Homo sapiens: one gene and its partners. The protein of the gene in region 5 interacts with the protein of the main gene of each other region in a biochemical or structural test. Each region holds a gene or a part of one and is shown on either strand. Other genes may lie near its edges. The genes, in order: SMCHD1, GAGE12J, FAM110D, NOSTRIN, LNX1, PPFIA1 and SEMA4F.

Evidence for each region.
Region 1: the proteins of LNX1 (region 5) and SMCHD1 interact in a test that uses a peptide from one of them, tested with the Homo sapiens proteins (one large-scale study listed by IntAct).
Region 2: the proteins of LNX1 (region 5) and GAGE12J interact in a test that uses a peptide from one of them, tested with the Homo sapiens proteins (one large-scale study listed by IntAct).
Region 3: the proteins of LNX1 (region 5) and FAM110D interact in a test that uses a peptide from one of them, tested with the Homo sapiens proteins (one large-scale study listed by IntAct).
Region 4: the proteins of LNX1 (region 5) and NOSTRIN interact in a test that uses a peptide from one of them, tested with the Homo sapiens proteins (one large-scale study listed by IntAct).
Region 6: the proteins of LNX1 (region 5) and PPFIA1 interact in a test that uses a peptide from one of them, tested with the Homo sapiens proteins (one large-scale study listed by IntAct).
Region 7: the proteins of LNX1 (region 5) and SEMA4F interact in a test that uses a peptide from one of them, tested with the Homo sapiens proteins (one large-scale study listed by IntAct).

The regions. Positions count from the first base shown.
Region 1 is NC_000018.10:2,704,226-2,707,725, forward strand, and holds part of SMCHD1 (structural maintenance of chromosomes flexible hinge domain-containing protein 1), read left to right. Parts: intron 1-1,468; coding exon 1,469-1,582; intron 1,583-2,138; coding exon 2,139-2,245; intron 2,246-3,337; coding exon 3,338-3,420; intron 3,421-3,500. UniProt on the Homo sapiens protein: Non-canonical member of the structural maintenance of chromosomes (SMC) protein family that plays a key role in epigenetic silencing by regulating chromatin architecture.
Region 2 is NC_000023.11:49,320,654-49,324,836, forward strand, and holds the start of GAGE12J (G antigen 12J), read left to right. Parts: upstream 1-1,383; 5' UTR 1,384-1,491; intron 1,492-2,532; 5' UTR 2,533-2,540; coding exon 2,541-2,624; intron 2,625-3,089; coding exon 3,090-3,210; intron 3,211-4,183.
Region 3 is NC_000001.11:26,157,683-26,161,878, forward strand, and holds the start of FAM110D (protein FAM110D), read left to right. Parts: upstream 1-1,396; 5' UTR 1,397-1,444; intron 1,445-3,529; 5' UTR 3,530-3,609; coding exon 3,610-4,196.
Region 4 is NC_000002.12:168,858,137-168,861,636, forward strand, and holds part of NOSTRIN (nostrin), read left to right. Parts: intron 1-1,375; coding exon 1,376-1,501; intron 1,502-2,658; coding exon 2,659-2,773; intron 2,774-3,384; exon of another isoform or gene 3,385-3,500. UniProt on the Homo sapiens protein: Multivalent adapter protein which may decrease NOS3 activity by inducing its translocation away from the plasma membrane.
Region 5 is NC_000004.12:53,581,487-53,584,986, reverse strand, and holds part of LNX1 (E3 ubiquitin-protein ligase LNX), read left to right. Parts: intron 1-3,500.
Region 6 is NC_000011.10:70,375,190-70,378,689, reverse strand, and holds part of PPFIA1 (liprin-alpha-1), read right to left. Parts: intron 2,159-3,500; coding exon 2,090-2,158; intron 661-2,089; coding exon 495-660; coding exon of another isoform or gene 487-494; exon of another isoform or gene 219-486; intron 1-218. UniProt on the Homo sapiens protein: May regulate the disassembly of focal adhesions. May localize receptor-like tyrosine phosphatases type 2A at specific sites on the plasma membrane, possibly regulating their interaction with the extracellular environment and their association with substrates.
Region 7 is NC_000002.12:74,652,992-74,657,046, forward strand, and holds the start of SEMA4F (semaphorin-4F isoform 1 precursor), read left to right. Parts: upstream 1-1,255; 5' UTR 1,256-1,385; coding exon 1,386-1,530; intron 1,531-3,542; coding exon 3,543-3,694; intron 3,695-4,055. UniProt on the Homo sapiens protein: Probable cell surface receptor that regulates oligodendroglial precursor cell migration. Might also regulate differentiation of oligodendroglial precursor cells. Has growth cone collapse activity against retinal ganglion-cell axons.

The DNA of each region.
Region 1 (3,500 bases), on a different chromosome or scaffold from region 5:
TTCCATAATTTATTATAGCATTAAAAAAACTATTGCCAGAGGCTCAATTAACAAGGTTTTTATGGTTTCCTAAACTAAACTTTACTCACATGGAGATCTCAGTGTTTTTTGTTTGTTTGTTTGTTTTTAATGTAATGCGTTAAGTAATGATTTTTAAGTATTTTTTTGTTGAGCATCTGCTGACATAGTAAGTTACTGCACCTTTTGACTGTGTGGTGGAGAATTCAGAGATATAGGAGATGTGCTTTGCTCTTGGTGATATTATATCCTAGCAATGGGGATAGTGTAAGCATAAATAATAGGTAAGAAGTGGATCAATGCAATGGAAAGAAAGGATTAATAGTGTTTTGGCAGGTTAGAAGGAGAGAAGAGGAGAGGATTTTTTTTTTTTTTTTTTACTTTGGTTGGTCGTGTGGGCTGGAAGAACAGAGCAGATCGTTAAATACTTTGGAAAAGAAGTAACATTTGTGTGGACCTTGAAAGGGGTAGAGGCTCAGGTTTACACAGATAATTACAAGGTAGAAGGCTCTCTGTTCTCTCCATAAATGAGAGATACCATCATATATTTAAAGCTATAGAATTGGATGAGATCATCTATACTTGGTGAGTATAGCTAAAGAGGTAAAAGGATTGAGCCTGGAGCTTTCCCAACATTTAGTGGTTAGAATGAAAAGGAGGAGCTGGCAGAGGAGACTGACAGGGATAAGCTGGTGAGACAGAAGGAAACTAGCAGAATGTGACATCCCTAGAGCCAAGTGAAGAGTTACAAGAAGAAAGGAGTGATCAGTTTAGTCAAATGCTTAGTGGTAATGGAGTAAAGTGCTTTCTAGAAGGTAATCTGAGCATAGAGATGTGCGTAGGTTAAGTGCAGAAAAACAGCAAGTAGTAAGAGTTGGGTTGTCCTGCTGCCTATTGTATGTGTGAAGAGAAATAGTTTAGAAATGGGGCAGGCAAGGTAGGTTGGGATAAACTCTTATAGTCCTTGTTGGGAATTTCTGAATTGGAGTAGTGGAAATTTCCCTTAGATTTTTTAAACCAAGTAAGGAGAAGAAATATGATAGGCAAGTTTTGAGCTGATGTATTTGAAAAATAATATTAACTTGTCAAAGTTTATAAATTGCTGTTCATCATCTGAGAGCAGAATTTTATGGGGAAAAAAGGTTTCAGATATGTTGGCATTCATTATGACTGAATTTGAAGGAATTCTGGACTTGTAAGACACATGCTTAATTCTAACACATTTGTATAAAGAAGCTGCCATATTTTTACAACTATTTGTTAAGTACAGAACTTCAAAAATACAATTTTATTTTAATATTAGAATGCTGTTTTCATTAGTTTTTCTAATGATAGTTACCAAGGTTTTTTTCTTTGTAATAAAGAAGTTCTGTAAAATTATTATTAAGCCTTTTTCTCTTCGTAAATCTTAATACTGAAGCTTTTTTTTTTTTTAAAAACTAAATATTAGGTCAAGACAATCAAGACACTTCCCCTCTTTTATGGAAGCATAGTAAGATTTTTTCTTTATGGCGATCATGATGGAGAAGTATATGCTACAGGAGGAGAGGTTCAAATTGCAATGGTAAGACAGCAAGTGATAAAACATACTGAAAGTTTCTTGATAACACTTTTGCATAATTGTTAAGATACAGTATATTTCGCTAGTGACTAGTTTTCCATTGGATAAAGTGGTTGTAGTTTTTGTGTGGATTTTTATGTGTCATAAGTTGATGTTTTTAATAATCTATACAATTTAACATCATATGCTCAGTTTTTGTAAACATATATACATTATAACTAGTTACCAAATTAATTTTATAAAGTCATATTTCCTCTAGGGCCCACTAACTAGTAAACATTGGAGCCAGAATTCTATCTCAGCAATGAGTAACTACAAAACTGGAGTGGGTTTTTTCCCTATACCATGCTTTCTTGTTAATGTTTGATATGTTAGGACTACAGAGGTTATATAAAAAATATAAACAAACATTGTGGTGTAACGTAAGAATAGCTACTGTTATTTATGTACTTAATTAGGATAAAATATATTTCTTTGGAAGAAACAAATGGGTGTTTGTTTTTATTACAGCTAGATTTAAATAGTTTTCTTTGAAATGTTGGTAAATGTATTTATTCAGGAACCTCAGGCACTATATGATGAAGTAAGAACTGTGCCAATTGCAAAGCTGGATAGGACAGTTGCTGAGAAAGCTGTTAAAAAATATGTAGAAGATGAAATGGCAAGGTAAGTCACACTTCAAGATGCATGACAAAAATAAGAAAAATTGGAAAGAATTGTGCTGTAAGTATTCTGAGTATGTCATTTACTCTGCTGTTAGGGCATTTGTAGTCTTAGATATTGTACCTATTGAGATGAACTTCTTGTTGAAAAAAATTAAGAGGTCTAGTTATACAAACAGAATTCTGCATTTGTTTTGTAGACAAAGAAGGAAATCTTATATATCTAAAGTGTCACTTTTATAGGCACTATGATTAACATGTTTTAAAAAAACTCAGTTTGGCCTACAACTAGGATATTACAATACCTGCTGAGAGGTAAAGATGAGTGTATTAGTTCGTTTTCACACTGCTATAAAGATACTACCTGAGACTGGGTAATTTATAAAGCAAGGAGGTTTAATTGACTCAGTCGTGCATGGCTGGGGAGGCCTCAGGAAACTTATAATCATGGCATAAGGCGAAGGGGAAGCAAGCCATGTCTTACATGGGCGGCAGAAGAGAGAGAGAGGGAAGGGGGAACTGTCAAACACTTTAAAAATCATCAGCTCTCGTGAGAACTCACTATCAAGAGAACAGCATGGGGGAAACCATTCCTGTGATCCAATCACCGCCCACCAGGTCCCTCCCTTGACACCTGGGGATTAGAATTCGAGATGAGATTCGGATGGGGACACAGAGCCAAACCTTATCAGTGAGTTATAAAGAAGAAGAAGGAAGTAGAAAGTGGCTTTTCTTCTTGTATAGCTAATGATGCAATCATTTTGATTCTTACTGAATTTTGATTCTTAGGGGTTATCCTGTCTTCTAAAGGTAATTTGTACTATAAACAAGTAGAAAAAAAAAATCAACAAAAATTTGACAGTTTCTGGCTTTTAATTCCAAAAGGTTTTTTTTTTTCTTCTTCTTTTTTTTCAGTAGCCACAGGAATGGTTAGGGAGGAAAAAAATTTTTAGATGATTAATCGTAAAGAATTCCAGATTTAACCTTTTAAAATATATCAGCAATAAATATTTAAGTTTCTAATAACTCGTATCTTTTTAATTAAGATCATAATTAACAAAGTTTGTGGAACATTAATATGCTGGTTTCATAACAGGCTCCCTGATAGATTGTCAGTAACTTGGCCTGAAGGAGATGAATTATTGCCTAATGAGGTTAGGCCTGCTGGAACCCCTATTGGTATGTTTGTTTATTTTTCTAATACCAAAAAGTGTGCTTTTCTTTTGTCTTACATTTCCAATATGTAAAAGGTCACGAGA
Region 2 (4,183 bases), on a different chromosome or scaffold from region 5:
TGTCTTATCCCTGATGAGAAACCGAAAAATTTCAACATTTCACCATCCTATTCACTCTCCTTTTTTTGTAGATGGACTTTATCAGAGTGAGTCATTCCATTCTGTTCCAAATTTGCTGAGAGTATTCATTTGAATATATGTTGATTTTCATCAAACAGTGCATCTATTTCGATTACCACAGCGTTTTTTCCCATTCATGTGTTAATATAGTGAATTCGATTGATAAATTTGTACGTTTTTAGGTTCGATTATTAAAACTTGAGACAGCGTCTCACTCTGTCACCGAGGCTGGAGTGCAGTGGTGTTATCAGAGCTCGCTGCAGCCTTGACCTCCTGGGCTCAGGCGCTCCTCCCACCTCAGCCTCCTGAGTAGCTGTGAGTATAGGTACATGCCACCATGCCCAGCTAATTTTTCGATGGTTTTTTGTTTGTTTTTTGTAGTGATGAGATTTTCTGATGTTGCTTAGGCTGGTCTCGAAGTCCTGAGCTCAGGTGATCTGGCCAGCTCAGCCTCCCAAAATACTAGGATTACAGGCGTGAGCCTTGGCCTGGTCTGGTTTTTCTTATATAGGGGTCTTATCTATATAAAGACTAAAGTTAATCTGTGCCTTTGTGCGGGTGGGCTAAGAGCATGATGACTTTTATCATTCTATTGATTTAAAGAAAACTATCCTTGACTTACCAGTGTGTAAGGCCATGAAAGCATAATTCTGTTGAAAGCATATATTGTTAATGGGTGTTGGGAACCGTGCACTTTCCGCTGCTGTGGGAGCATGTCCTTGGAGGTACCTTTCATCTGTTTTCTCAACTCCAAACATCTTAGGACCATGGGTTGTGACTGGTAGGACTATGTATCTTGCTGCTTTCAAGACGGAGTATATTTTCACGTGGTTTCACTCTGGCTGTCCTGTTTCCCTAATACTGTCACTTCACCCTCTGTGATTCTGATGCTACAAATGATAGATATCGTTTTAGCATTTTCTTACGGGTCCTAGCGATTCTATTCATTTTTCTTTCAGTCTCTTTCTCTGACTTGTTCACAATGAACAATTTCCTTTTGGGATAGGTTGCTATTTCTGTTTTCGCAGGTGGTTTACCTGTCTTCCCAGCCAGTCACAGTGGTCCTTGTCCCCATGGTGGGTCCGGGGCAAGAGAGGGCCCTGGGTTGGGGGTGGGGTTCAGTTGAAGATGGGGTGAGTTTTGAGGGGAGCACTACTTGAGTCCCAGAGGCATAGGAAACAGCAGAGGGAGGTGGGATTCCCTTATCCTCAATGAGGATGGGCATGGAGGGTTTGGGGCGTGGCGCTGGGAACGGCAGCCCTCCCCAGCCCACAGCCGCGCATGCTCCCTGGGCTCCCGCCTCAGTGCGCATGTTCACTGGGCGTCTTCTGCCCGGCCCCTTCGCCCACGTGAAGAACGCCAGGGAGCTGTGAGGCAGTGCTGTGTGGTTCCTGCCGTCCGGACTCTTTTTCCTCTACTGAGATTCATCTGGTAGGTCTGCAGGCCAGTCATCCCGGGGGCTGAAGTGTGAGTGAGGGTGGAGAGGGCCTTGGGTGGGTCAGGCGGGTCCCGCTTCCTGGTCTGTGGCCTCCGAGGGAGAAGGGCCACGAGGTCGTCCTCCTTCCCTTCACAGGCTGCGAGGCCACCGGCGGCTTCGTGGTCGTGAAGGGGCCTGGACGGGGAGGAAGGTGGGCCGTGGAGGGGAGGCGGTCAGGGGCTCAGGTGAAGATGGGGTGAGTGCTGTTGGGGGGATGGAAGTCCCGAGGTGCCGGGAACCCCCGACGACACAGGGCAGATTCCCTGAATGGGGCCTCCGGCGGGGGCGAGGCGGGCGGTGAAGAAGGGGCCTGGCACCTGGGAAGGCTGCGGCCTGGTGAGCGCCCCCCCCAGCGGTGTGGAGTGCGGAGCGCCTGAGTGAGAAGCACTGCAAGGTCTCACCTCCGCCATGGAAGGTCCGAAAACAGTGGGAAGGAGTGGGCGAGGCAGTGCGGTCCAACCAAACTTGTTGTGAGGGGGGGTGAATGGCTCTAGGAAGTGGGAGTGTGCCCAAAGCAGCAATCACGAGAATTGTGATTCACTAGGGTTTTCGTGGGGAGTGCACTTGTGAAACTAAACCTCATCAGAAATGACCTCTGTCTGCGGGGCGCAGTGGCGCTCGCCTACGTAGTCCCAGTTACTCGGGACACTGAGGTGGGAGGATCCCTTGAGCGGGAGGTCGAGGCTGCAGTGAGCTGTGATCACGCCGCTGCACTCCAGCCTGAGCAACACAGCGAGACCGCGTGTCCAAAAGAAATTTAGAAAAAAATGTCCTCTGCCTTTTGCCACATGCCTTAAGATGATTGCTCTGCCAGCCTGGCCAGCAGAAGTGGCTTTGTAGGCACTCAGACAGCGTACACACGTATGCTTAACTCTGGGACTTATCTTGAGAGTATTTTCAAAAGTAAAACGGCAAGTTTACATTTATCCATGGAAGTGATCGAATATAGCAGCCCTGTGGAGCGCACGTTCCCAATCACGGTTGTCTGTTTTCAGTGTGAAATATGAGTTGGCGAGGAAGATCGACCTATTATTGGCCTAGACCAAGACCCTATGTACAGCCTCCTGAAATGATTGGGCCTATGCGGGTGAGTGCTTGAACGTTAATTCGATGTTTTCTATTAGTAGAAATTAATTTTTGTGATAGCGTTGTTGCATTAGTGTGGAAATGCTGATAAAGGTCTTTCCTGCTCATAAAAAATGATGATGGCATCTCATGAAGGAAACATTGATTCTGGAGGATTTTTTTTTTCCTCTCGTGTTCTTCAGCTTTTGCCCATGACTTCTTTCTCCGGCTTTGTTTGTTAATGACAGATTGTACACATGTATTCCAACACAGAGTACAATAGCCTCCAAAGTCCTCGTGCGTCACTTTTCTCACAGTAACCTCCCTGTGGGTGGAGTAACCTTATTGGGCATAGAGCATAGAGTTGGAGAAATGTCTTTAGGCTTAGTTAGGACCAGAAATAGCTATGTATTCTGTGTATATATGTAAAATTTTGTATCAATAACGAAACTTATTTTTTATTTGCACACCCACACGTATTCCCCAGCCCGAGCAGTTCAGTGATGAAGTGGAACCAGCAACACCTGAAGAAGGGGAACCAGCAACTCAACGTCAGGATCCTGCAGCTGCTCAGGAGGGAGAGGATGAGGGAGCATCTGCAGGTCAAGGTGAGGGAAAGGGAAGAAGAACGTCTGCTGGTGTGTGCGTGTGTGTGTGTTCGTGTGTGTGTGTGCATGTGTGTGTGTGTGTGTGTGTGTGTGTGTTAGGCATTGTCACATAGGAGGAAGAGGAGGAAAGAAAACAATGGAAAGAATGCCTGAAATTGACTGGAAAAGCGAGGAGGCTATGTAGTTTGCAGCTTAGCTTAGGCAAATCCCTCACTATGATAAAAGTTCTCGACTTTATGAATGAGAGAATGGAGGTGCCAGGATTGTGTGTTATCCAAGAACCCTTGACTGGTGAATACAACATTTGTATTGTGTTCCAAGGTTTGTGTCTTCCTATCATGTGTGTTGCTGTAAAGAAGGAAGTGATTTTGCTGAAAATGCTTAAAACTCAAAAGGCTTTACTGTAAGGTAGCTTAGTACTGACCCAAGAATAGACCCAGTTCAGAGGAGCAGGAGCAGCTCCAAAAACCGAGTCGCTGAATGTTGGCCCCCGTTTCCTTTGATTGATATTTTTATATGGTACGTTTGATAAAAGCTGGATAAATGAGGATACTGCCATACAGGTAGCTGGTTTAGTGATTTTTCTCAGCGGCTTTTAGGAGGTGATTAAATCCTTTTATGGTTAGAAAAGCAAAAACGGAATTATCCTGAGATTAACGTGAGATGGAAATAATTTCTCCGAGATAAAATGTTTTGAAAGGAAGCGTTTATGTAATGGAGGTCATGGATTATTCCAGGGATGCACTGTTAAAAGTTCCTAGAATCTGACTGACAACAATGCCCATTAATTGCTGTCCACCCACTCCCTTATTCTCAGTGCGGGACAGTATATTTTCTGTGATTCACAAACAATGTTATATTTGGTGCTTTGTTCTTCACGGGGTTCATTTATGGAATATTACCTTTAGGACCTTCGGACCTAAATATAACTTTATTTGAACAAAGTGAAGTTTCTCTTTACCCCAATAGGTAA
Region 3 (4,196 bases), on a different chromosome or scaffold from region 5:
CACTCCAGCCTGGGTGACAGAGTTTGGTGAGCTTGGATAAGTCATTTCTCCTCTCTGAGCCTCAGTCTCTTCAGCCGTAAGTGTGAAAAATAATAAAACCTCCCCCAAAGATTGTCATGGGGATTATGACAAAGCAGCTAATGGCATTTTGAAAAGTGCTGTAGCAACAAAATATGGAACTATCACCAACAAAATCCCCCCTTTAGGTAATAAAAACCTTTTACCGGGAGATGGGCCTTGGGTTTTCAGACCCACTACTGACTTGACAGGCAGAGGATGCAGTTCCAAATGTGGATTTGGAGCTGGGCTTTGGGCATCTCTCTCCCCCCTCAGCTCCTGTTTCCTTACTCATTAAGTGGGGGGTCATTCCTGCTGGACGCCTGTCTAGGGTCCTTGTTTGGGGGCGGTCAAAGGAGATCAGAGAGCACAGACGGGAATGTGCTTTGCAAACATGAAAGAGGGCTAGAAAGGAGGAGGAGGGACTTGGGGAAGGTGGCCAGCCAAGGGGGGAAAGGAACCTTTGGCCTGAGCACTGGTCTTAGTCTGGGCTGGAGAGTTTAGTTTGCCTGCTGGGGAGAGGGGAGGTGTCTCCTATGAGGTAGGGTTTCACCTTGAGACATAAGGTGTCAGAGAAGAAACTCTGATGGAAGAAGCTCTAAGAGGCTCCAAGTGTGGGCAGAGAAGGAAGCGGGCCAAAGGACCTGGGCTTGGCCCTGGAATCAGCCCCTCATCACTGTCTTCCCAGGCAATCCCATCTGCCATGAAAGGACCTTGGCAGAGGCAGCTCCAGTGGGCTCCAGGGTCACCTTCATGACAAGACTTGCCGCCACAGGCTCACCTGCACATCTATAGCACCAATGCCCCCACCCTTAGGCTGCAGATTCCTGGTCTCGCCCCCAGGGAAAGCAGGCTTGACACCACCCAGCACCCAGACCAAGACAGGTCTCAGCCTGCTACAGAGGGAAAAAAGCAAGTTGACTAGAACCCTGTTCTGCCTTCCCATTCAGACTGTCAGAGCATCTGCCACAGCCCAGGGAGGGGGCTGATCCCACATACGGAGCCCCCACCCCAGGCCTTTGGAGGAAGCCTGGGGATCAGGAGGCCTTGTTTGGAGTCCTGGCTCTGCCCAAGCTCACAGTGCTTCCACAGCCAATCACCTAACCGGGCTGGGACTGTTTGACCATCTGTAAAATAAAAGGAGCTGGACTTGGTTCACAGGTCTCCACAGCGCAGGACTGTGATCAGGAAAGAGTTAATGGAGGCCAGGATCTGCCTCAGGAAGGCGAGGGTTAATTTGGGGGGCGGGGGGTGGAGGCTTTCTCTGCTTTTCCTGTGGAGAGTGAGGTTTGGCTGCCACCAAAGTTACTTCTAGTCCTTGCTGTCCACTCCTGCCCTCAGTCTGGACCTGCCCAAGGACCCCTGCAATTAGGCCTCCCATGCAGAGGTGAGTGTACCCTGAGCCCAGGGCTGGGGTAAGAAGGAACCCAGGGGCCTGAGGGCAGGGAGACTGGTGCCAAACTAGTGAGCCTAAAAGATGGCCCATGCCCAGAGCAGAAGCCTTGGGCAGAGTTGAGACCACAAGTTTCAGGACTGGGAGAAGGCAGGCAAAGGAATGGAGGGCCCGAGGCTGCCTGCCAGGCTTCTAGGGCGGGATGTCTGAGGTCCGGCCTCCAGGCTAGCCCAGAAGGCAGGGAAGAGGCTGTGGATGACAGACTATTTTGGTCCTTGTGATTAGGAACTTTTTATAGTCTCCCTGCTCAGGGCTGGGGAGAAGAGGAGAGGACAGAGGGCACCCATGGGGTCAGACAAGCAGTGCCTTCCTGGGACCTTGGAATCTGACCCACTGCCAAGGAGACTCCCTGGGAGACAGGGAGGGGGACACTGCCAGACTCTCCTTGGTTCCCAGGCCTCAACTACCTATGAGCAGACTGACTACACACTAGATGCTGGGTGCAGGGGTGGGCTGGACCTGGCAGGGTCTCTGCCCCAAGGCCTCTCACAGACTCCTTCCCCACTTCCCTGGCTAATTCTGTTCCTTTGTTGTCCCCAGATCCAAGGTCCCTCAGCCTCCAGGACTCAGGGGGAGTAGGGGAAGATAGGGGTGGGGTCGGGTGTGCAGGGCCATGTGGGTGGCCCATTCTGTTACTGCCAAGAGAACTGTCAGCTCTTGATTTACAACCCCTCCTCGCTCCTTGCCCCAGCAGAAGGGAGGTGGAAAAGGGTCATGAGGTCTTAGGATAAAAAAGGGACAAGGACCCTGGGGGCAAATTTCTGGGAGTGGGAGCGCAGGTTATTAGGAAGAATTAGTGGAAGGAACTTTTTAGTGAGGCAAGGGGCCCATTTCTAACGGAAATTGCTTGGTTTTATAGCAGCGGGAATACACGCAAAATATCAGTGAGTTCTTTTTTTTTTTCTTTTTTTTTTTTTGAGACGGAGTCTCGCTCTGTTGCCCAGGCTGGAGTGCAGTGGTGCGCGATCTCGGCTCACTGCAACCTCCGCCTCCCAGCTTCAAGCGATTCTCCTGCCTCAGCTTCCCAAGTAGCTGGGATTACAGGTGTGCGCCACCCCGCCTGGCTAATTTTTGTATTTTCAGTAGAGATGGGGTTTTGCCATGTTGGCCAGGCTGGTCTGGAACTCCTCACCTAAGGTAATTCACCCACCTCGGCCTCCCAAAGTGCTGGGATTACAGGCATGAGCCATCGCGCCTGGCCTCAGTGGGAAGTTCTGATAGGCAAGTGAGAGATCCAATCTGAACTGCAAGGCAAGAAACCTGGGTGACAAAGCAAGACTCCGTCTAAAGAAAAAAAAAAAAGAAACCTGGGTTCCAGTCCTGGCTCCTAACTCTCAATAGGACCTGAGCAAGCCCCCCTCCTCTCCAAGCCAGTTTCCTCTTCATGAAATGGAAATGCAAAGGTTAAACAAGGTGATGTTTACAGTTTGGCATTCTGCGATCCCCTTGGCAGGGGCAGAGTAGCTGGCAGTAGCTGATAGGGCCTGGGGACCACCTCCCTCTCCTGCCCCGATGGCCCTGCTGGGCCTGGGCAGGGCAGTTGGCTGCAATTACTGGAGGCTCCTACCCTGTGGTTATATCCCCGACCTCGGTGTTTGGGGGCGGGAAGGGTGGGCCCTGCTGGAGCCAGCCTGTGGCTGGGAGCCTTCTTGTCTTGGGCTCAAAGCTGCTGGGTTGGGAAGAGGTATTTTTTCCGGTTGAAGCCACTTTCAGGAATTGGGCCGGGACCAGCCCTGTTTCCTTTTCCAAGTGTCCTGCTTGCTAAGGCCTGCTTGCACGACCCTGTGGCCAGATTGGGGCACCTTCAAAGGGGAATATGTTTCTGAGTGGCCAGAGAGACCCCACTCAATGTCTCTGAAGGACAGGGAAAGGGGATGGCCTGAGCCTCTGCTCCCTGGATGTGGCACCGGCTAACCTGGATGGGAGAGGGTGGCTGACTGATCCTATACTGAGGAATGCCGGCAGGAGAGGACCAGGGGCATTTCCTACCCTTCCCCTGACCTTCCTCTCTCCCTGCAGGTCAGTGAGAGCCCAAGCCAATTGCTCTAGGCCCCGTGGCTGGCTACTTATGGGGCACTGTCCTGACCAGCTCTGCTAAGATGCTCCTGGCCCCTCCCTCCACCCCGTCCAGAGGACGGACCCCCAGCGCCGTGGAGAGGCTGGAAGCCGACAAAGCCAAGTATGTCAAGACGCACCAGGTGATAGCTAGGCGACAGGAGCCAGCCCTGCGTGGGAGTCCTGGGCCGCTCACGCCGCACCCCTGCAACGAGCTGGGGCCCCCTGCATCGCCCAGGACGCCCAGGCCGGTCCGCCGGGGAAGCGGCAGGCGGCTGCCGAGGCCTGATTCCCTCATCTTCTACCGCCAGAAGCGGGACTGCAAGGCTTCGGTGAACAAAGAGAACGCCAAGGGCCAGGGTCTGGTGCGGCGCCTCTTTCTGGGTGCCCCGCGGGACGCTGCCCCGAGCAGCCCGGCCTCCACAGAGCGACCTGCGGCTTCAGGGGGTTGGGCTGCGCCCCAGGATGCCCCGGAAGCGGCGGGAAAGCGGGCGCTGTGTCCCACGTGCTCGCTGCCCCTGTCGGAGAAGGAGCGCTTCTTCAACTACTGCGGCCTGGAGCGCGCGCTGGTGGAGGTGCTGGGCGCAGAGCGCTTCTCCCCGCAGAGCTGGGGAGCCGACGCCAGCCCGCA
Region 4 (3,500 bases), on a different chromosome or scaffold from region 5:
GCACAGAATTTTGTCATTGTCATTACCAGCATACATGTATTAGGATCATCTGGGTCCTCTCACCTGAAGCACACAGTGGAGGACACAAGGAGGGAGAGCATCTGACCTTGGAACTTCCAATGTTTATGATCTGGTGAAGGAGCAACTATGAACCTTTAAGTGAGGAATGCCAAATATCCACATGATTTCATTACGCATGCTCTGCATCTGGGTAGACAGAAACTAGTGATACTGGTAGATTTTGTGTCACCCACGGAAGGTTTCTAGGATGAGGAAACTTTTATTTACATTCTTCCTTATTTCATTATATCTTGGTCCTTGAAGTGCCATGTTTGAATCAAGAATGTTCACAAGCAGTGTCATAAGAAAAATTGTTGAGAAAACTGGAGGCACTTAGATTAAATACTGTCTTTAGAGACCAGAAAGAGGGCCACATAGAAGAAGAACTAGATGTGCTCTATGAGACTATCAAGTGAAGGTCTAATGGTAGAAAGCATGGGGGAGCTTTTAGTTTTGTCTTAGGTAAGCCTGCCCCACAATGCAGTGGATTCCTCCAACGATTAGAGACTTTCTCCATCAATTGGATGTCTTCTGTCCATGGCTGTGACACCCTGGCAGGGATATTAGGGTTGGGAATTCCCATGCTGGAGGTGTGGGGGAGAGAGGGATAATGGTGAGGAGGGGGCTGGATAAGCAAGACCCTTCCAATGCTTAGATTCTGTTATTTAATTCACCCTGGCTGGACCCAGCCTGACAAGGTAATTATAAAGTTTCTAGTTCAAGGTCATATCAAGAACAGACAGAGACTAGGAGTGTATCTTTAGCTTGACTTATTATGTTTATACTCAAATGCCCTAAAATATTGTTCCCAGTTTCCAGAAGTATTCCTGTAAACTTTGTGGGTAATATAAGACCTCACCTTATCAAAGAACAAACAAACCTCACATTCAATTTCATTTGCGTCTATTGATGTTAATTCAATTCTGTTCACAATATTTAGCACTGATGGCTCACCTTCTTCGCAGACCACCAAAAATCTACCTTCTACAATCAACACTTATCCCCTTTCTTGTCCCTCAGCAGAAAATTGAGTAAAACCTCTTCATTGCCATAAAATACTAATATATTACCAAGGTTTCCTGTTCACCCCCAGAGTACAGAATGAGACACACTCAACAACTAAAACCTCCCTCTAAACTGCTTAAAGAGTTTATTCCTCCATTTTTTTTTCCTTCGGCATTTTCTGTGAATATCTGTATGAGTTAAATGCGTACTTTTCTAACCTTTGTTATTTTGAAAGTTATTCTGATATTCCTATCCAGTTGTGCCTCATTTACTAGAAATTTGCTCACATGGCCAAATGATGTATCCACAGAACAATTTGAAACTAGACCTTTTGGAAGCGAACTCCTACAAACTGTCATCAATGTTAGCAGAACTTGAGCAAAGACCTCAACCCAGCCATCCTTGTAGTAATTCCATCTTCAGGTGGAGGGAAAAGGTAACATTTAAGGAGACTGGTTGTAATTTCTTGATTGGGCCTGCTGGGTGGAGTGGCTTAAAGTAGCATCAGGGCAAAAAAGGTGTTAGGAATTCTATGTGATATTAATATTCATGCAGTTAGTTAAGAAGATAAATGTTTTTATTTTTCTTTTGAGCACAATAACAAGAGCTAGACAAAACCGAATACATTCTGTGTACACCAAACTTCTATGAGAAGCTAAAAAACACTTTTGATTTCTTCTTTCTCATCATACCTGAATTTCATCCTTTGGATGTGCTTTTACAGTAAAATTTCTATTAAATTGAAATTTTAATATTCGTTCAGACCTAAATTATAAGATTTTGTGGTATGTATTAGTCTCATCTGTTTAAGATGGTGCCTAATGCAGATAATGCATCAGTACAGCTCTGAAATGCTTGTAGCTATTTTTATTACTGATCAGAAGGGGGAACTGTAATCATCTTGTGAAGGGACAGTTTTCTAAGGCTCAAGAGCTCGAAAACAATCTCAATCATTTACAGGGTTGTGATCATTTCACTTGCATTAAGCCAACTAAAGTTGTATTTGTAAAAGTAATGCTATGAATATTACTATTTGACCTAGACACATAGGTTAGAATTGGAAACACAGGCTATAAAGTATAGTAATTGTGTAATTGTGAAAATATTAAGGCTTCAACTCAAAACTGAAACACAGTAGGGCTTAGAAATCTTTGAATTATTTATACCCCTCAGTTTAAAAACTTCCAGTCCAGGCGCAGTGGCTCATGCCTGTAATCCCAGAACTTTGGGAGGCCAAGGCAGGCGGATCACCTGAGGTCAGGAGTTCGAGAGCAGCCTGGCTGACACGGTGAAACCCCGTCTCTACTAAGAATACAAAAATTAGCCAGGCATGGTGGTGGGCACCTGTAATCCCAGCTACGGGGGAGGCTGAGGCAGGAGAATCACTTGAACCCGGGAGGTGGAGGTTGTAGTGGGCCAAGATCATGCCACTGCACTCCAGCCTGGGTGACAGGGCAAGACTCTGTCTAAAAAAAAAAAAGAAAAAACAAACAGAAAAAACAACTTGAGGAAAACAGCTACAGAAGAGTTAATTTTCATGAATGTTTATGATAATCGTGTTACAAAATATGACTTTTTATGTCATTTGAACAGGAGCATACTCATAGCTATGTGAAAATATCTCGGCCTTTTTTAATGAAGAGATTAGAGAATATTGTGAGCAAGGCATCTTCTGGTGGGCAGAGCAATCCAGGTTCTTCAACTCCAGGTAATCCCATGCCCACAATCATTTTGGCCTGGGTCCTACTGGCAGGGCACATTGCTACATTTAAATTTTAGTTTCAGAGCCACTTTGACCTGTATCTGTTTAAGGAAATTTATATTTCCATTGGGACCGATTAATTTGTTAGACTCTGTAGCTTTATGTAAAAATGGGAAAAAGTTAAGAAGAGTAGAGGGTTGGGAAAGTATCCTATGAGAAGTTGCCTCAGATATCAGATGACTGGCATCCACCTTATTCAAATGGCCTGTTATTTGCCATAAACATAATCACACCTAAACCATCGTGAGGAGCTTTGTCGCTCTGTCTCCATAGCCTCCTCCAAACTCCCATAAGAAGCCTGTCCTCTCTGCGAGACACATGGTGATCCAGGTGGTTTGCCAGGGCTTGGACTCATGGCCTACAAACTCCTGTTAGCAGCCATCTGACTTCAGTCATTCATGCACCCACACACCACACTGCTCTTCATCTTTCAGCACACACACACGTGTCACTGTACCTGCATGTTCAAGTATAATTACCATAATCTTGACTATCTAGTTTTTTAAATTAGAAATTGGTTTAAAAAAAAAAAAAAGAACTTCAGTAAAACCAGGACATTATGGTTCACACAATATATTAAGGAGTCACTGTTGCATTGTTTGAGAAACAGTTCCATACACAGCTAGGGATGATGATAACATGCACATGCCCCAAATATCCCGTATTTATACCT
Region 5 (3,500 bases):
AAGACAAAGATAAAAACAAGGGAGGAACCACCCAATGCTGTCTTTAATTTGGGGATGTGTGTGTCATGTTTTGAGTAAGCAAATGTGATATACGTTACACTGAAAGGCAGAACAAGGCCAAAGGTCAAAGTAACGTGGGAAGCACTAGCTATTTGAAAAACTGACCAGTTCTCCATCAGTGGAAGTGTTTCAGATAGAAGCTGGTAGGTGCTGTAGGGATCTTGAAAAGAGGATTTTTCTACTTGGTGAAAATCTAAGTTCCTTAACCGATCAAAATCCTATGACTTCTAAATAAATCATTTTAAAACCTCACATAGAGGTCGTCATATGGGTCACATCAAGAGATCACTACTCTTCCTTGATTGACACATTTGCTCAGGTTCTTCTCACCTGGATTACTTCCCACTTGTCCAGATCGCATTTATCATTCGTGATCCTTCCCAAGGACCGTCTATCCCATTAACTTTCCTTGATTGTTCTGGGCCACATGCACTCTCTATTGTCTCTCCTCCAAAGCTTGTCCATGGCTCCTGTCTTGGGGCATTATACACATTGCCATGTATTATGTATTCTCTTGCAGTGTTTTTACATTTTTTTTCCTGTGGATAAACTCTGTTTTCATAATTAGACTTAAATGTATTGGAGATGAAATGGAATTCCCTACAGGAACTCCCACAGAGTTTAAGGCCAATCCCAGGCATGGATTAGGCAAAGCCATGACCCCTGTAGAATTGAAACACAGCCGGAAAATGTTGAGAATTCAAATATCTTTCCTCATCTTGTCCTTCCCTCTGTAAAACTTGGTTATCTGTTTTAAAAAAAACAACAACAACAGAAAAAAAACCATACACACATAAACACTTTTTGAAATTGTTTTTCAGCTTTGGATGAAAGAATGTCAGTTTGCTTCTTTTCCATACCCCTCTGATATCAGCTCTTCCCGGGATCCTTGGTGACTCCTAGCATGAACAGAGCTCCGAATCAATGCAAAAATACTCTGCCTTCATTTGTCGTTGTTGTTGTTGTTGTTGTTGTTGTTGTTGTTGTTGTTGTTTGCAGGGGGTCAGTTCTATTTCATCATGTTTATGGACTAGGAAATGGAAGGACATCTTTTCTGTTACAGAGTTTTTACAAACAAACCCAAGTATGGCACCCCAGGGGAAAGGTGGTAAAATCTCGTCAAGAGAAGGAACACTCTTCTCTAACCTGCTTATGAAAGGCATTCCCTGACTTCTAAAACTTGCGTCTAATTGTCTAGCCACTTGGGACTCTTTTCGCTTAACCACTTCCCTTGTTTTTCCCACATTCTGAACATCTATGTCCTCCTTTATTGACTCCAGATGTATTACATGGTCTCCCTTTAGTTCAATTCTCCTGTAATTTCTTGACATGTTTCTGACCTCTTTAAAGACCATTTAAAAGGGTTTTTTTTTTCTGTATTTTTGGGTGTTTGCAATACTATACAGGCTAATGTCATTCACAGATTCATTAATGAGTGGCTTAGTCCCTCTTCGAGATCATTGATTTAGAAATTAAGCAGAAGCAGAGCTAACCACGACCTTGGCGGCAGCCTGTAAGCACCTGCCTCCCCACTCTTTCCTCTGCAGTGTATTTGCCCCCCATCATGCACACACAGACACATCACCCCAAACTTCCAACCCAGGTTCTTAGTTTGAAGATAATTTTATTCCATGTGTGACTATTTTTATCCAGGTCATTAATGCTCCTAATTCTTCCCTATTACATGAGAGTCTGTAAGCTAAGGAATAGCCCACAGAACACTGCCCATCCTCTGTGTATGTTCATTTACAATTGGCCTTTATAAAATTGCCATAAGAGTTTGATGGCACATTATCGATCCTGTCAAGTCTTACTAAATTTATCTAAAATTTAAAATGTAATTGTACATTTACTTTGTTTAATACAGAAAGATAGACTTTGCCCTAACTTTGGCAATTATTTTCCCCCCAGTAACCTGATTTAGGAGTTACAGCTAGGGCCAGGGCAGTAGTTAGGCAGACATGCCTGCTGGGTGAATTATTTTAGAAAGAGAGATGAGGCCACCATTTGAAGAAGTGGCAGGCGCTGGTCTGTTTGGTTCCTCTGTGGGTATATTTCTGCTGTTCGTGGTCCAGGATGGTGTTTCTGACTGTGATGGTGATTTTTGCACTGAGCTGTCACCCCAGTGACCAGTTTGAAACTAAGCAACCATTCTGCCACATGGAGCTTAATCCAAATTTTAAAGCATCATCAACAATTAAAAAAAAAACAAAAAAACAAAAAATCTTAAGCTCATTTTCTTGAAGCTAAAAGTAACCTCAGAAATAATCTGATATAGAGTTAGCCCTTGTGTGTTTGAAACATGCTGTAAAACAAGAGGTTGGCTGAAGGGAGTAAAATATTTTGAATAACTTTTAAATGTGCAAAAATTCAAAGCAAACATGAATACAGTAGGGCAGAGCCTCACACTGTTTGTAAAATGTCACATTCCATGTGGTGTCCTTGCTGGAGAGAACTCTTTATTACTTGACTGGGCTCGCTTATGTACTCATGAAACAAAGCTCTTACAGGATCCGGTCGTTTTGTGATCTTTTGTGAGACCTGGCCCTAGGTTACATTCTTTGCTTCTTTGAAGCGAGTCATTCCTCTTGCCTTGTGAACCCTTCAGCAAACTGTTCACCTGTGTGTCTCTGTCAAGTGTAACAATCAGCTGAAGCAACAATCAATTCTGACCTTGGGTGAAGTTTAGTGGCACACCTGGGAAGAGTTTGTAATTCTACTGTTTTGTCATTGTAGCTGGCTGGCCACCAGGTCAGGTAAAAGGAAAATATCAAGATCCAAAAAAGTAGTTGGTAGCAGAGCTGCATCCAAACCACAGTTTTGATATTCTTAGGTTTCTAAAATTAACAGTGACAAGGTCATAATTAAGGTGAGGCAAGTGAGACACTCACCTTCAGGTGCAAAATTTAAGGTGCAGAAAAATTCAGTAATCCTAATGTGAATGCAATATTTAAAAAAATGCAAAATGAATGCAAACAATCCATGATGAACAAAAGATCAAAATGTATTCAAATAAAGACAAGATCAGTAAGCTAAAGTTATTTAGAAATTGTTTAAGATCATCACTTAGTTAAGAGAAATGATCAAACATGGCAATTTCCTCAATCAAAAACAAGATGCGTGATATGGTTTGGCTGCGTCCCCACCCAAATCTCATCTTGTATTGTAGCTTCCATAATCCCCACATGTTGTGGGAGGGACGCAAGGGGAGGTAATTGAATCATGGGGGCGGGTTTTTCCCATGCTATTCTTGCGATAGTGAGTAAGTCTCATGAGATATGTTGGTTTTATAAAGGGCGGTTCCCCTGCACATGTTCTCTCGCCTGCCACCATGTTAGACATGTTTTTGCTCCTCCTTCACCTTCCGCCATGATTGTGAGGCTTCCTCAGTCATATGGAACTGTGAGTCCATTAAACCTCTTTTTCTTTATAAATCACCC
Region 6 (3,500 bases), on a different chromosome or scaffold from region 5:
GTGACTGCACGGAACAGCAGCAGCAGGGAGGGCAGAAAGCATAGGCAGAGCTCACACAAGCTGGAAACTGTGTGTTCTTAAAAATGTACTCAGTTATTTTCTCTGGTGTGGAGAGCAGTAAATTATGTGGTTTGGAAGCTACTACTACACTACTATTTCCTGAAAGAGCTTTCTAGCACGGCCTGTCACAGACACAAATTTACAAGTATGCCTCAGTCTCTCTCTGAGAACACAGACGAATACTGAGCTTTATTAGTTGGAAAAATATGCTAAGATTCAACCAGACAAGCGTGTTTTAAAAATTCTATTATTATGGTTAAACTTTTATAAACAAATGTTAGAGTTAATTTAAAAACATTTATATTTGGACATGCAACCATACTCAAGTGCCTTGTAACATATTAAATAGGCCGTTTTAGATCATTATTAATGTTCCAGACAGAAAGCTGCTCATGCTCCCAACAAGTGACAGGTTAGTGTGACCCATCACATACCGTCCATCTGCATCTTCTTTGGCTGCATAGAGGGGGAAGACATAGAAGAAGTCACCCGGAAGTTTGCAGGGAGAGTCTCTGCTGACCCAGCAGCTAAGCCACGAATGTCCTTTGGTCTAAACTTTTTTCTCCATGAAGGTGCTCTCCTAAAGCTTTTATCATCATCCTGGTAAATTAAGGAACAAAAAACAAGATTCATTTAAAAAATAAAGGTCAGAGATGTAAAGTTACATGTCCTTTAAAATGACTGCTGATCTCGAGAATGTATTCTTGTCCACATGTATTTAATCCCTTCTTGATGACCACACAATATATTGCCCAACCTGGAACTTCAGCGTGAAACGGGGCATGGTGATGGTCCGGCTGGGCCTCAGCTGGCGAAATGAGGTCGGTGCTGGGCCATGAGGATGTGCTCCTTCTCCACAGCATCATGTTCTACTTCTTACACCTTGCAGGAATCACTTTCTTGCAACGTAATACGTTTTTATTTATCTTAAAAATAGTTTATTTTTCATTTTTATTTATGTTTTTACAGACAGAGTCTAGATCTGTTGCCCGAGCTGGAATGCAGTGGTGTGATTATAGCTCACTGTAACCTCAAACTCCTGGGCTCAAGCCATCCTCCCACCGCAGCCTCCTAAGTAGCTGGAACTACAGGTGTGCCCCTACCACACGCAGCTCTACAAACAATTTTTAACTAGAAACAATTTTATCTTATGCCAGGATATAGCAACAAGTGCTTCATCTTTAGAGGTGGTCTTCTATTCTCTCTGTCAAACTCAACTTTTCTTAAGGTCCAATTAAGAGACTCCTAATCGTGTGGAACAAATGAGTCATGGTTTTAAGGGGAAATTAACATTTTGTGTTTTTAATATACTTCTGAAACATGCCACCCCACCCATGCACAGGAGTATGGGGGTACACTCTGGACTGGGGTAGGATAACTACTGGTCCCCAAAACCCAACTTACAGACTCTGTTCCTAAGCTGCAACCAATGTTTTATGATGTGAAAACCATTTTTGAGGGATGTCAAAAATTAAATAGCAAAAATAAAAACAAAACTACCTTCTTGAAGGTATTACTTTTGTGGGTTTTTTTTTTGCGGGGAGGGGGTTTCTTTTTGAGATGGAGTTTCTCTCTGTCGCCCAGGCTGGAGGGCAGTGGTGCGATCTCAGCTCACTGCAACCTCCACCTCCCAGGTTTAAGCGATTCTCCAGCCTCAGCCTCCCAAGTAGCTGCGATTATAGGCACCTACCACAACGCCCGGCTAATTTTTGTGTTTTTTAGTAGAGATGGGGTTTCACCATGTTGGCCGGGCTGGTCTTAAACTCCTGACCTCTGGTGATCCGCCCGCCTCAGCCTCCGAAAGTGCTGGGATTACAGGTGCGAGCCGCCGTGCCCGGCCCAGGTATTAGTTTTTAAAGGCTCATTTGTGAATAAATGTATAAGAGCAAAGCCTGACTTCTAACATCCAGAGAGACTGCCTAGCTACATGATGTCCCAAGTATAATAATAATAACAGCTTACATTTCACACACATTTAAACATTTACACACATTTCAGACATTTAAAGAACATTAGGCCAAAAACTTACTTCATCAAACCTTCTATCAGTCCCCATGACCAAAAGGTTGTTAAATTCTCTTTCCAAGACAGCACGAGCCTGAAATAACCAAAGAAAAACAAATAAAACTTTCATCAAATCTAATTTGAAGGGTGTTAGCATCGTAATTGTTTTTTAAACCAAGACTTAAACTCCCTCACTGCTGGCTGGGTCTGGTGGCTCACGCCTGTAATTCCAACACTTTCGGACGCCAAGGCGGACAGACCACCTGAGGTCAGGAGTTCAAGACCAGCCTGGGCAACATGGTAAAACCCCGTCTCTACTAAAAATACAAAAATTAGGGCCTGGGTGTGGTGGCTCATGCCTGTAATCCCAGTACTTTGGGAGGCCGAGACAGGCAGATCACTTGAGATCAGGAGTTTGAGACCAGCTTGGCCAACATGGTGAAATCCCATCTATACTAAAAATACAAAAATAAGCCGGGCACGGTGGCGTGTGCCGGTAATCTCAGCTACTTGGGAGGATGAGGCAGGAAAATCACTTGAACCTGGGAGACAGAGGGTGCAGTGAGCCAAGATTGCACCATTGCACTCCAGCCTGGGCAACAAGAGCGAAACTCCATCTCAAAACAAACAAAAAAACAACTCCCTCACTGCTATGACTACATTGAACCATAATAATATTTTAAATCAGGGCATCTAATGTGGAGTCAATGGATGGGCTTTTGCAGAAAGGGATCCATGATCCTTGGAGTCATATTAACAAGGGTGTGTTGTGTGGGTTGGTCAGGGGTATTGGCCAAAGATATTCAATTTTTTTTTTTTTTTTTCCTTTTTCTTTGGGATGGGGGTCTCACTCTGTCACTCAGGCTGGAGTGCAGTGGCGCAATCAGAGCTCATCACAACCTCCACTTCCCGGGCCAAGCAATCTCCCTGCCTTGGCCTCCCAAGTAGCTGGGACTACAGGCATGTGCCACCACACCTGGCTAATTTTTTTGTATTTTTTTGTAGAGACAGAGCTTCACCATGATGGCCAGGCTGGTCTCGAACTCCTGGACTCAAGCAATCTGCCTACCTGGGCCTCCCAAAGTGTTGGGATTGTGGGCATGAGCCACCTTGCCTGGCATATTCAATGTTCTGTAGAGGAATAAAAGTTCCCTGTTTTTCAAATGAGCCCATGAGTCAAAAAGAATGGCATAAGGCAATTACCCATAAAAACAAAATTAATAAAATCTTCATGTGGCACACCTAAAAACACTTCTCTTTCCATGTAAGAACTAAATATATGTCACTCTTCTGATCAGGCACATGGGCTGGAATGAAAGATCGTCCTTATCTGGTTTATTGCAGGACTCTCATGCTTCCAACAGAAAAGGGAAAGCCAATAGACCAAAAAAAAAAAAAAAAACCAAAAACTAGTTGTCTGAAGTTTTTTTTTTTTT
Region 7 (4,055 bases), on a different chromosome or scaffold from region 5:
ATTTTCCCTCCAGGCTAAGCAATTCGAATTCAGGGACCATGTCTTTTGTTTGTTTGTTTTAAGCCACCAAATTCTGAGGTTAATTTGTTACATTTGTTTTGCAGCCTAAATAACTAATACAATGGGGGTGAAAGAGGAGAAAGCAAAGACTACCTACTAAGTGCAGACTAAGTGCTTGAAGAAGGAGCTAGGGGCCGGGCGCGGTGGCTCACGCCTGTAATCCCAGCACTTTGGGAGGCCGAGACGGGCGGATCACGAGGTCAGGAGATCGAGACCATCCTGGCTGACACGGTGAAACCCCGTCTCTACTAAAAATACAAAAATTAGCCGGGCATGGTGGCGCGCGCCTGTAGTCCCAGCTACTTGGGAGGCTGAGGCAGGAGAATGGCGTGAACCCGGGAGGCGGAGCTTGCAGTGAGTCGAGATCGCGCCACTGCGCTCCAGCCTGGGCGACAGAGCGAAACTCCGTCTCAAAAAAAAAAAAAAAAAAAAAAAAAGAAGGAGCTAGGGTTGGGATGGAGGAGATAGTGAGTTATCCTCAGGACCTATGCTTGCCTTGTTTATAGGATATCCAAGTGGATATGCCCATAGGCAGTCTTTGTTCCTCGCCCTCAAAGGCCTACCAACCCTAGAAGAATCAGTTCAAATGTCACCTCTTCTGTGAGGCCTTCCTGATTTCCTCTGGCAAAACCTGGCCCTTCTGCACACTTATTGCACGTTATTATAGCAAACGTGCATTGCTTCGTATTGCAATTATCTATTTGCAGTTATTTGCTTACATTTGGAAGCCCCATTACAGTGTGAACTCCCTAGGGCAAGGGCCGTGATTTTTAGTATTTTCTGTATAATCGTGTGTGTGTGTGTGTGTGTGTGTGTGCGTGTGTGTGTGCGCGCGCGCGTTACACTGTGCCTGCCCAGCACATAGGCAGCCGTCCTTAAATGCTTGCAAAGTATTAATTTTGAGAAACTTGGTGCGTGTATCCACGTCCTCTTATTAGTAAGTTTTCCTTATTAGTACAGCTATGGGCGTTTGAGTTTTTGGAGTGGCCGGAGCAAACTCGCCACTCGAGGTCCCTGAGTGGCAGCCCCAGCGCACTTCCGAGGCAGAACTCCCACCTTCACCTGGGTCTAGCTCCGCCTCTGCCTGGGTTAGGCCTCTCCTCCCCTCAGCCCCGCCTTCACTCAATCCCGATTGGCTGGAGGAAGAAGGAGGCCCGACCATTGGCCCCTTTCTGAGGGGGCGGAGCCGGGCGGTGTTTCATCCCTCAGCCTCAGGCTGAGCCGGACCGAGCCGAGAGGACCCGAGTGGGGCCGAGGCCAGTAGCCCCGGGGCCCTGAGCAGAGGCCGTAGCTTGCGCCGCACCCGCGGCCAGGCGGAGCCAAAGATGCCGGCCTCTGCTGCGCGGCCCCGCCCGGGTCCCGGGCAGCCTACAGCCTCGCCCTTCCCGCTACTGCTGCTGGCGGTGCTGAGCGGCCCGGTATCCGGCCGCGTCCCCCGCTCGGTGCCCAGAACCTCGCTTCCAATCTCTGGTAAGGCGCGGACGCCCACGCCCTCAGCCCTTCGCGCCCACACCCACACCCACACCCACCTGCTCCTCAGACCGCTCGGCCGGACCCGGGCCTCTCAGCCTGGTGTATGGCGTTTCACGCCGCCCACGCCCCGCCGGGACCGGGGCGAGATCTTCGCACTTCACCGCATCCTCTCTGCATCCCTCCCGCGCCCCTCAGCCCCTCATCCCCAGCCCGGGCCTCGCGCCTCGGCTCCCACGACACGCCCAGGCTGCACCAGCGGGCCCTATTCCCGGAGCCGCAGGAGCGTCCAGTCCTCACCGTGCAGACTCGGACACTGAGGCCCAGAGCTCGGGTGGGGGCTGCCCGAGGTCGTTCATTTCGAAGTTCCGTCTCCCTTAGTCCCCTGTTTCCCCGCACATACACCTGGGTCCATCATTCCAGCTTGACGCCCACTCTGCTTTCAGACCCATCAGTCTTTCATTCTACTCCAGCTTTCCATTCCGATCTCCAGGTCAGCATTTCCATCTTCTCCAATTCATTTCCCTATCAGTTCTATACATCATCCGAGCCTCTTGGCCCTTCTGACAGCCCTTCCCGCTCCCCTGACATCTCTGACAGCAGCTCCCATTCTCCCATTATTGGATCCACGTTAACTCTCTTAACTTCCTCAGTGTTCCTCGCTGCCTCTGCCCATTCCCTACATTGAATATTGGTAAACCATTCAATGTGTTGATGTAAAGTTCTGCTTAAATGATTTTTCAAGTCTTCAGAAGGAAAAATAGAGGAGGGGGATATGATCCTTTGAAAAGATGTGGAAGAAGCTAGGAGACGTCACAAGGTTAAAAGTGATCATTGGGGCGATTCACATTTTAGACTCTGCTGAGGTGGGTATGAGCATGGCCGTGGACCTTGTTGTCTTCTCAGTGGGCATTGAGTGTTATTAGCACCTTGGGCAGACAGAACCAGTGAAGCCAAGAGTACAACCTGTTGGCAACAACTCTGGACTGGTTAATAGTAGTTTAGAGTTTAAATTCAGACTAGTGCCATATAGGGATGCTGTGATTCCAGAAGGCGAAGTTGTGGCCAGAGCCTGGGGTTTCAGTTTGCACCCAAGCAATAGCCACAAAGTAAGTTGAGATTGCCAGGCTGGGTTGATGTCCAGGCATCCAGAGATGTCTAGATGGCAAGCAAGGTGAAGCAGAGTTGAGGATGTGAGGGGAAGTTAGGTGATCCAGGGCTTATACTAAGCATGAGAGAGTGGGCACAGAGGTAAGTATGGGTGTGGGAGGAAGGAGTGGGCGGGACTCATCAGTACATCTAGGAATGAATGGGTTGGTGTCCAGTCTGCAGTCTTGAGGGTACTGAGCAGAGGAAGCAGGTAGAGCAGAGCTGTATTGGTGCAAGGGTAGGGTCCCCAGAACCAGAGGTTGAGCTAGGAAGGTAAATTCATGCCAACTTATTCCAGTCTTTAAATAGATACGAATTTTGAATGCTAATATGAGGTTTAGATTTTTTTTTTTTTTGAAGCGGAGTCTTGCTCTGTCACCCAGGCTGGTGTGCAGTGGTGTGATCTTGGCTCACTGCAACCTCTGCCTCCCAGGTTCAAGCAATTCTCCTGCCTCAGCCTCCCAAATAGCTGGGATTACAGGTGCGCGCCACCTTGCCTGGCTAATTTTTTGTATTTTTAGTAGAGACGGGATTTCACCATGTTGGCCAGGCTGGTCTCAAACTCCTGACCTCAAGTGATCCACCCACCTCAGCCTCCCAAAGTGCTGGGATTACAGGCGTGAGCAACCGTGTCCAGCTAGTGCTCTATTTTTATAGAAAAAGCATACTTACCCACTGGATTGTGTGCTAAATATTCTGGCCTCATCTATCTCTGGTTCACTTGTCAAGGCTGTGTTTCTCCCCCATGGCTGCTTAATAAATGGTACTTGGAAGAAAACAAAAATTGGCCCCTTTGGTTTTGCTCTTGTGGACTTGACCCTTAGGAAGCGATGGCTAACATCACTCTCCTCTCTTCCTGCCAGAGGCTGACTCCTGTCTCACCCGGTTCGCAGTCCCTCACACATACAATTACTCTGTTCTCCTTGTGGATCCTGCCTCCCACACACTTTATGTTGGCGCCCGGGACACCATCTTCGCTTTATCCCTGCCCTTCTCAGGGGAGAGACCCCGCAGGGTGAGAGACAAGAGAGGGAAGGACCCCTGACCCTGTAGCATGTGATTAAATCTATGATTTTATGAGTGTGTGTGGGGGATTTCATAATAACTAAAGATGTAACAGCAGGGGTAGTAGGAGGGGGTGAGTTGGGAGACATGGGGGGAGATCATCCACTTTGTTTTCTTAGCTAAGAGTATGGCGGGTCAGGGTGACTGGGGAGGATATGAAGGAGGTTCATGATGATGGGGAGGAGACCACAGTGACCAGGTTTCAGGTGACAATGGGCAGAGGGATCATTAAAATTACAATACTCTAGGGAAACAGCTTTCAAACTTTTTTTTGACCATTATTAGAACTATACAGTTTGAGCATCCCTAAT